2 separate regions of the Homo sapiens genome follow, and region 2 is linked to region 1. The links come from fine-mapping of genetic effects on gene expression. A gene starts in region 1. The other region holds a variant in brackets. All regions are shown on one strand. Distances are from middle to middle. Region 1 holds the start of RNF24 (ring finger protein 24). Region 2 has its middle 66 kb from the start of SMOX.

What was found. PIP is the estimated chance that this variant, and not a neighbour inherited with it, causes the effect.
Region 2: its variant is fine-mapped to the expression of RNF24 in blood mononuclear cells (TOPMed, PIP above 0.99).

Annotation. Positions count from the first base shown.
Region 1 is chr20:4,014,109-4,017,013 of GRCh38, reverse strand. It overlaps RNF24 (ring finger protein 24), which reads left to right and starts at 1,456. Exons shown (of 6, transcript NM_001134337.3): 1 at 1,456-1,577. RefSeq lists enhancers at 1-330, 534-1,466 and a silencer at 1,350-1,949.
Region 2 is chr20:4,081,708-4,084,612 of GRCh38, reverse strand. No RefSeq gene overlaps it. Among named protein-coding and RNA genes, the nearest start is that of SMOX, 66 kb to the left of the region's middle. RefSeq lists enhancers at 1,262-1,761, 1,762-2,263, 2,177-2,376 and a cis regulatory region at 1,195-1,892. The variant T/C (reference allele first, on the strand shown) is at 1,398.

The sequences.
Region 1 (2,905 bases):
AAGAGGGGGCAATCATTTTTGCAAGCTCTGAGCTGCAGCGCACACACAGTCAGCTGTGGAGCTTCACAGCCATTCCCTCTGCAGGCTCCTAGCCTCTCCAGAAACTTCCGTACCCCAGGAGTGGCAGACACAAGGCGATGGGAACAAGAGAGTATCTGCAGAATACACTGCCTGCTAAAGACAAGAGAGGACTCCCCAGATCCTTGCCTTGGTATTGCAGGAAGAGCTCAGCCTCCCAAAATCGGAGGTCAATTTATTGCCTGCCCTGTAGAATGGGAGCCGGAGGTTGAGGAGTGGATGTAAATAAAGGAATGCACTGTTTCTTGCACACACCTCTCTCCACTATCTGGGCAGAGTCTAGGTCTCATCCATCACCAAGGTTCTAGCACTCAGCTGAGAGGCTGCAGCAGGAGGGGCAGATGGAGGAGGGTGCGGTGCATACCATCTCCCCATCAAACCAATGGGCACCACGTGACCATTCTTGTGTCTCTGGGGACTGTCAATCTGCATGCTAGGAAAGGGGTGGCATTCCAATCTTTCATTTTTTTGTGTGTGAGACGGAGTCTTGCTCTGTCACCCAGGCTGGAGTGCAATGGTGCGATCTTGGCTCACTGCAACCTCCGCTCCCCGGGTTCAAGAGATTTTCCTGCCTTAGCCTCCCGAGTAGCTGGGATTACAGGCATGAGCCACCACACCCAGCTAATTTTGTATTTTTAGTAGAGACAGAGTTTCTCTATGTTGGTCAGGCTGGTCTGGAACTCCTGACCTCAGGTGATCCACCCGCCTTGGCCTCCCAAAGTGTTGGGATTACAGGCGTGAGCCACTGCGCCCGGCCCCATGCTTTCACTTTTAAAAATGCTTGTAGGGCACGCAAAAATACTAAACGGTCGATGGAGAAGGTCTGTCTGGAGTAGTTGTTTTTTTTTTTTTTTTTTGAGACAGAGTCTCGCTCTGTCGCCCAGGCTGGTGTGCAGTGGCACGATCTCGGCTCACTGCAAGCTCCGCCTCCCAGGTTCAGGCGATTCTCCTGCCTCAGCCTCCCAAGTAGCTGGGACTACAGGCGCCCGCCACCACACCCGGCTAATTTAATTTTTTGTATTTTTAGTAGAGACGGGGTTTCATCGCGTTAGCCAAGATGGTCTCGATCTCCTGACCTCGTGATCTGCCCGCCTCAGCCTCCCAAAGTGCTGGGATTACAGGCGTGAGCCACCTCGCCCGGCCTGTCTGGCGTAGTTCTAACCAGGAACAGAGCCAGCGGCCAGGGCCGCACCAGGCCTGGCCAGGGAGCGCCGCGCCTGCGCACTGCAGACTCTGAAGCCGCCGAGCCCTCCGCCGAGGTGGGTGGGGAAACTGCCCGGGCATCCGGGTCCCTCACCCCGCCCCCGCTGCATGAATGAGAGGCGCGGCGCCCGCCCCTCCCCCGGCGGGCCCGCCCCTCGCGAGGGGCCGCCGGGCGCAGTCAGCCGCCGCCACCTCCGCCGCGCTCTGTCCGGACGGACGCTCGCCGCCCGCAGCCTGCCGCCCGCCGCAGGGCGCTGACGGTCCCGCACGTCTGCCGCTGCCACCGGCGCGCCCGAGTAAGTGAGCGAGCGAGGGCGGGAGCGCCGCGGCCGCCGCCCCCGGGCTGGGGTTTGGGGGACCGAGCCGCTCCGGGTTCGGGATGCTGAGGAGACCGCGGGCCCGCGCCAGCCTCCCACACACACACACTCTCCCGGCGCCTCGGCCGGCCGGGCGCGGTGTGCAGGGGTGAGGCGGTGTCTCCAGGCTGAGGAGGGACGCGGAGGAGGGTCCGGCGCGGCCCCGGGACTGGAGGGTGAGTCCCTCACAAAGGGCGGAGCGGGGCTGTCACCTGGAGATCACGGAGGGAAGGTGCGTGGGCCCCCGCACGTCCTGCTCGCCCAAGCCCTGGCATCGGGTCCCCGGGCGTGGGAGGCGGCTGGGATGAGCTGGGAGGCTAGGAGGAGGATGGCGAGGACGCTGCCCCCGCGTTGGCGGTGGGCGCGCGCCTTGGGGGGTGCGGCGTGGCAGTGTTTTCCTGGTCCCCGTCCACTCCTCCCCTTTCTTTGTGGCGCTTGTCTCGTGCCCCGTTGTCACAGTGTGCATGGCAGTGGTCGGGGTGGAGACCTCTTCCCTCGGCTTACTCATTAATGAAAGTCACCATCTGTGGGCAGGGGGCGTGTGTGGTTCCACAGGCCGGAGAATTAAGGACCCTCCTTTGTTTCTGGAGACCTAATGATGTGTGTGTGTGTGTGTGTGTGTGTGTGTGTGTGTGTGCGCATTCAAGTGAAAGGGACATCTATGAAATGAGAGAATCAGAGATTGTCAAAAAGGGTATGAGGAAAAGGGGAGGGGATATAACTTCATCACACCTTTACCCAATTCTTTACCTGATGTTATTTCAAACAGTTTTTTCTCACTGTAAAACCAGTGGGTTTTATTCATTGGAAATGTGCATCTAAATTCTCATATATCTGTGTTTCTAGAATACTTTGCCTTTTTGGGCTTAGTTAATGGTAAGATTCTCATGTCTGTCTACATAGGAATACTCCACCGTACAGGACACTGCTTTCTGGGTTTAGTTCATTGATAATTTGTCCGAATGCTCATAAACATGTCTATAGGAATACTCCAATATATCTAGGACACAGTTTTCTCCGCTCCTGAATACAGGCAGATTTTGTTTCTTTCTGCCTCCCTGTGTTAATGAGAAGGTAGTCCAGCAGGTTCTCTCTACCTCCTTGCTTTTTTTTCCCCTTAATGCTTTGGCAGAGGGTTTTATTGCATATTACCCTGGCATGCGCCCTTGCTTTGATGTGAATTTTCCTGTGTTCTGTTGTCTGGTTGTACAGCCCAGCTCAATGGCTCCTCTTACAGGACTACTGGAAAACAGAACACCTTTTTTCAT
Region 2 (2,905 bases), 68 kb before region 1:
TTGCATCATTCTCTGAAGAAGGGCCTCTGGGTACCAGTGGCCAAAATCTCATCCTCTTATTCCAAAGATTGGTTCCCCTCTCTGTCTTCTCTCTCTGCGTGTTTATGGCACCATTCTTCCCCAGAGACCTCAGCTGGAAATCTCAGCCTCATATCTAATTCCTCTCTCTTTCTTCCCCAGATCAATCCAGACACCCATCAGTTCTACCTTCTAAATGCCTCTTGATCCTGTTCTCTCCTCTCCACCCCATAGCCACTGCACTGGCCAGGCCACCATCTTTGCTCACCCACACAATTGCCATGTCACAGTTGATCCCCAGATTCCTGTTCTGAAGATACTACTGTCAAGCCCCTGTGCATGGTGTCCTTCAGGCTCATTCGCTTCACCTGAGGGCCCAACCAGGCAAGCTCTCTCCCTGCTGCCTCCTGCCATCCCTACTTACCCCTCTGGACCTCTGCTCCTCTCCTGGCACCTGTACTTCCTGCAGCTCCTCTCTAAAATTTACCAAAATACTCTATCTCCACTTTCACCCTCCCAGGAAGCTCTCCCCAACCAGGCCATTCAAGTAATTCCTTCCTCTATAGCATCTTATTCTTCACTATCCAAGCTTACCTGGGGCAAAGTCCTGTGTTCCCGCAAAACTGTGAGCTCCTGAAGTCAGAGTCAGTCTTTGTCTCCTCTTTGGCCTCAACTAGTGCCTGGTCCCCATGAAGGACCTAGAAGATACCTGCTGCATGGCAGATAGAGCTAAAGGCATCAGTGGCATGGTTAAATCAACCTATGACACCTCAACTCTCAGAAATATGGAGTAGATGTGTTTTTTCCTATTCTTTCCAGTAAATATGGCTAAAAACCCTAGATACTGCCTATAAAACAAGCATCTGAAAGCAGAGAGAAGAAGGCAAACCAGCTAGGGACTTTGGGGCCTAGGGAATGACACAGCAATGAGTTCTCTGGGTTTATCTTTTTGGCTCATATATCCCAGACAGTGTGCAAAGAAGCCAGCATTCTGGAAACAACAATGGGAATAGATGCCCCACAAAAGCCCAAGAAAATCCTGCTCTGCTTGCCAAAGGACCAAGATGGAGTGGCCTAGCAAAACAGAAAACTTTTAGACAATGATCGTTCTGTGCCAGCCAAATACCATAGGAAAAAATGTAAGACCCCACCCCCACCCGCACCATCAAAGGCTGAGTGGGGAGCCTCGGCTTCATGGCTAGGCTCAGGCTGGACTTCACGGCTTCAGGCTATCATGAGGTTTCAATCTCCTTCCCCCTGGCCAGGCTAGTGTCAGAAAAAGCTGGGTGGGAAGCCAGGACTTTTATCCCGCTGGGCAGCAATGAGGTCTCCCTTCCCAGGGGTGTCAGTGGAGACCACATGGGAAGCCTGGACTTTCA[T/C]TCCCAGCTGGTGGTAACGGAGCACCCCTCCTCCTCTCCCCCGCCCTCCTCCTCTCCCCCGCCCTCCTCCTCTCCCCCGCCCCCCTCCTCTCCCCCGCCCCCCTCCTCTCCCCCGCCCCCCTCCTCTCCCCCGCCCCCTCTCCAGTGGTCTCAGAGGAAGCCTGGTGGAGACTCAGGACTTTCGCAACTGCCAAACGGTAACAAGGCTATCCTGCTTCCCCACAGTATCAGTGGAGGTCACATGTGAAGCAGTGACAAGGGAACTCTGCCCCTCCCAGCCAGGGTGTTGTCGATGGAGACCTAGTAGGAAGCCTGAACCCTACCCACTGCCCAACAGTGATGAGGCGCTCCTTCCCTGACCCTGACTGTCAACAGAGGCAGAGTGGGGAACCTGGACCTTCACCTCACCTGACAGGAACAAAGTAGCAGCCCCTTTCCCTAGAGCAAGTCAGAGGAGGCCTCTGCTAAATCAGATTTAAAGAAGCTCCAAGGTCTCACAACAGAAACTCAAAATGTTGAGGTTTCCGTTGAAAATGACTCATCAAACCAAGAACCAAGAAAACCTCAAATTGAATTAGGAAAAATAATCAACAGACACCAGTGCCTAGGTGACATGGATATTAGAATTGTCTGACAAGAATTTCAAAGCAGCCATCATGAAAATGCTTCAATGAGCAACTACAAACCCTTGAAAAAAACACACAAAAATAGAAAGTCTCAGCAAAGGAACAGAAAGTCGTGGGTCTCAGCAAAGAAACAGGAGACATAAAAAAGAACCAAATGGAGGCCAGGCACAGTGGCTCATGCCTGTAATCCCAACACTTTGGGAGGCTGAGACGGGTGGATCATTTGAGGTCAGGGGCTCAAGACCAGCCTGGCCAACATGGTGGAAACCCCATCTCTACTAAAAATACAAAAATTAGCCAGGCGTGGGGGTGCCTGCCTCTAATCCCAGGTACTCAAGAGGCTGAGACAGAAGAATCCCTTAAACCCAGGAGGTGGAGCTTGCAGTGAGCCGAGATGTTTGCGCCACTGCACTCCAGCCTGGGCGACAGACCAAGACTCCTTCTCAAAAAAAAAAAAAGAACTAAATGGAAATTTTAGAACCAAAATATACATCAACAAAATTTAAAATTCAATGGATGGATTGAACAGCAAAATAGAGATGACAGCATAAAGAATTAGTGAACTTGAAAATAGAACAATAAGATTACCCAATCCAAGCAACAGAGAGAAAATAGTAGAGAAAAAAATGAACAGAACCCAAGAGACTTGTGAGGCTGTAACAAAAGATCTAACATTTGTGTCACTAGAGACCCAGGTGGAGAGGTGAAAGGATCTACATTTGAAAAAGTATTTGAAGAAATAATGGCTAAAAATGTCCCAAATTTGACAAAAGACATGAACCGACAGATTCAGGAAGCTAAGTGAAACTCAAACAGGATAAACCCCAAGAAGTTCAAATCAAAACATATCTTGGCCAAACTTCTAAAAACTAAAGCCAAAAA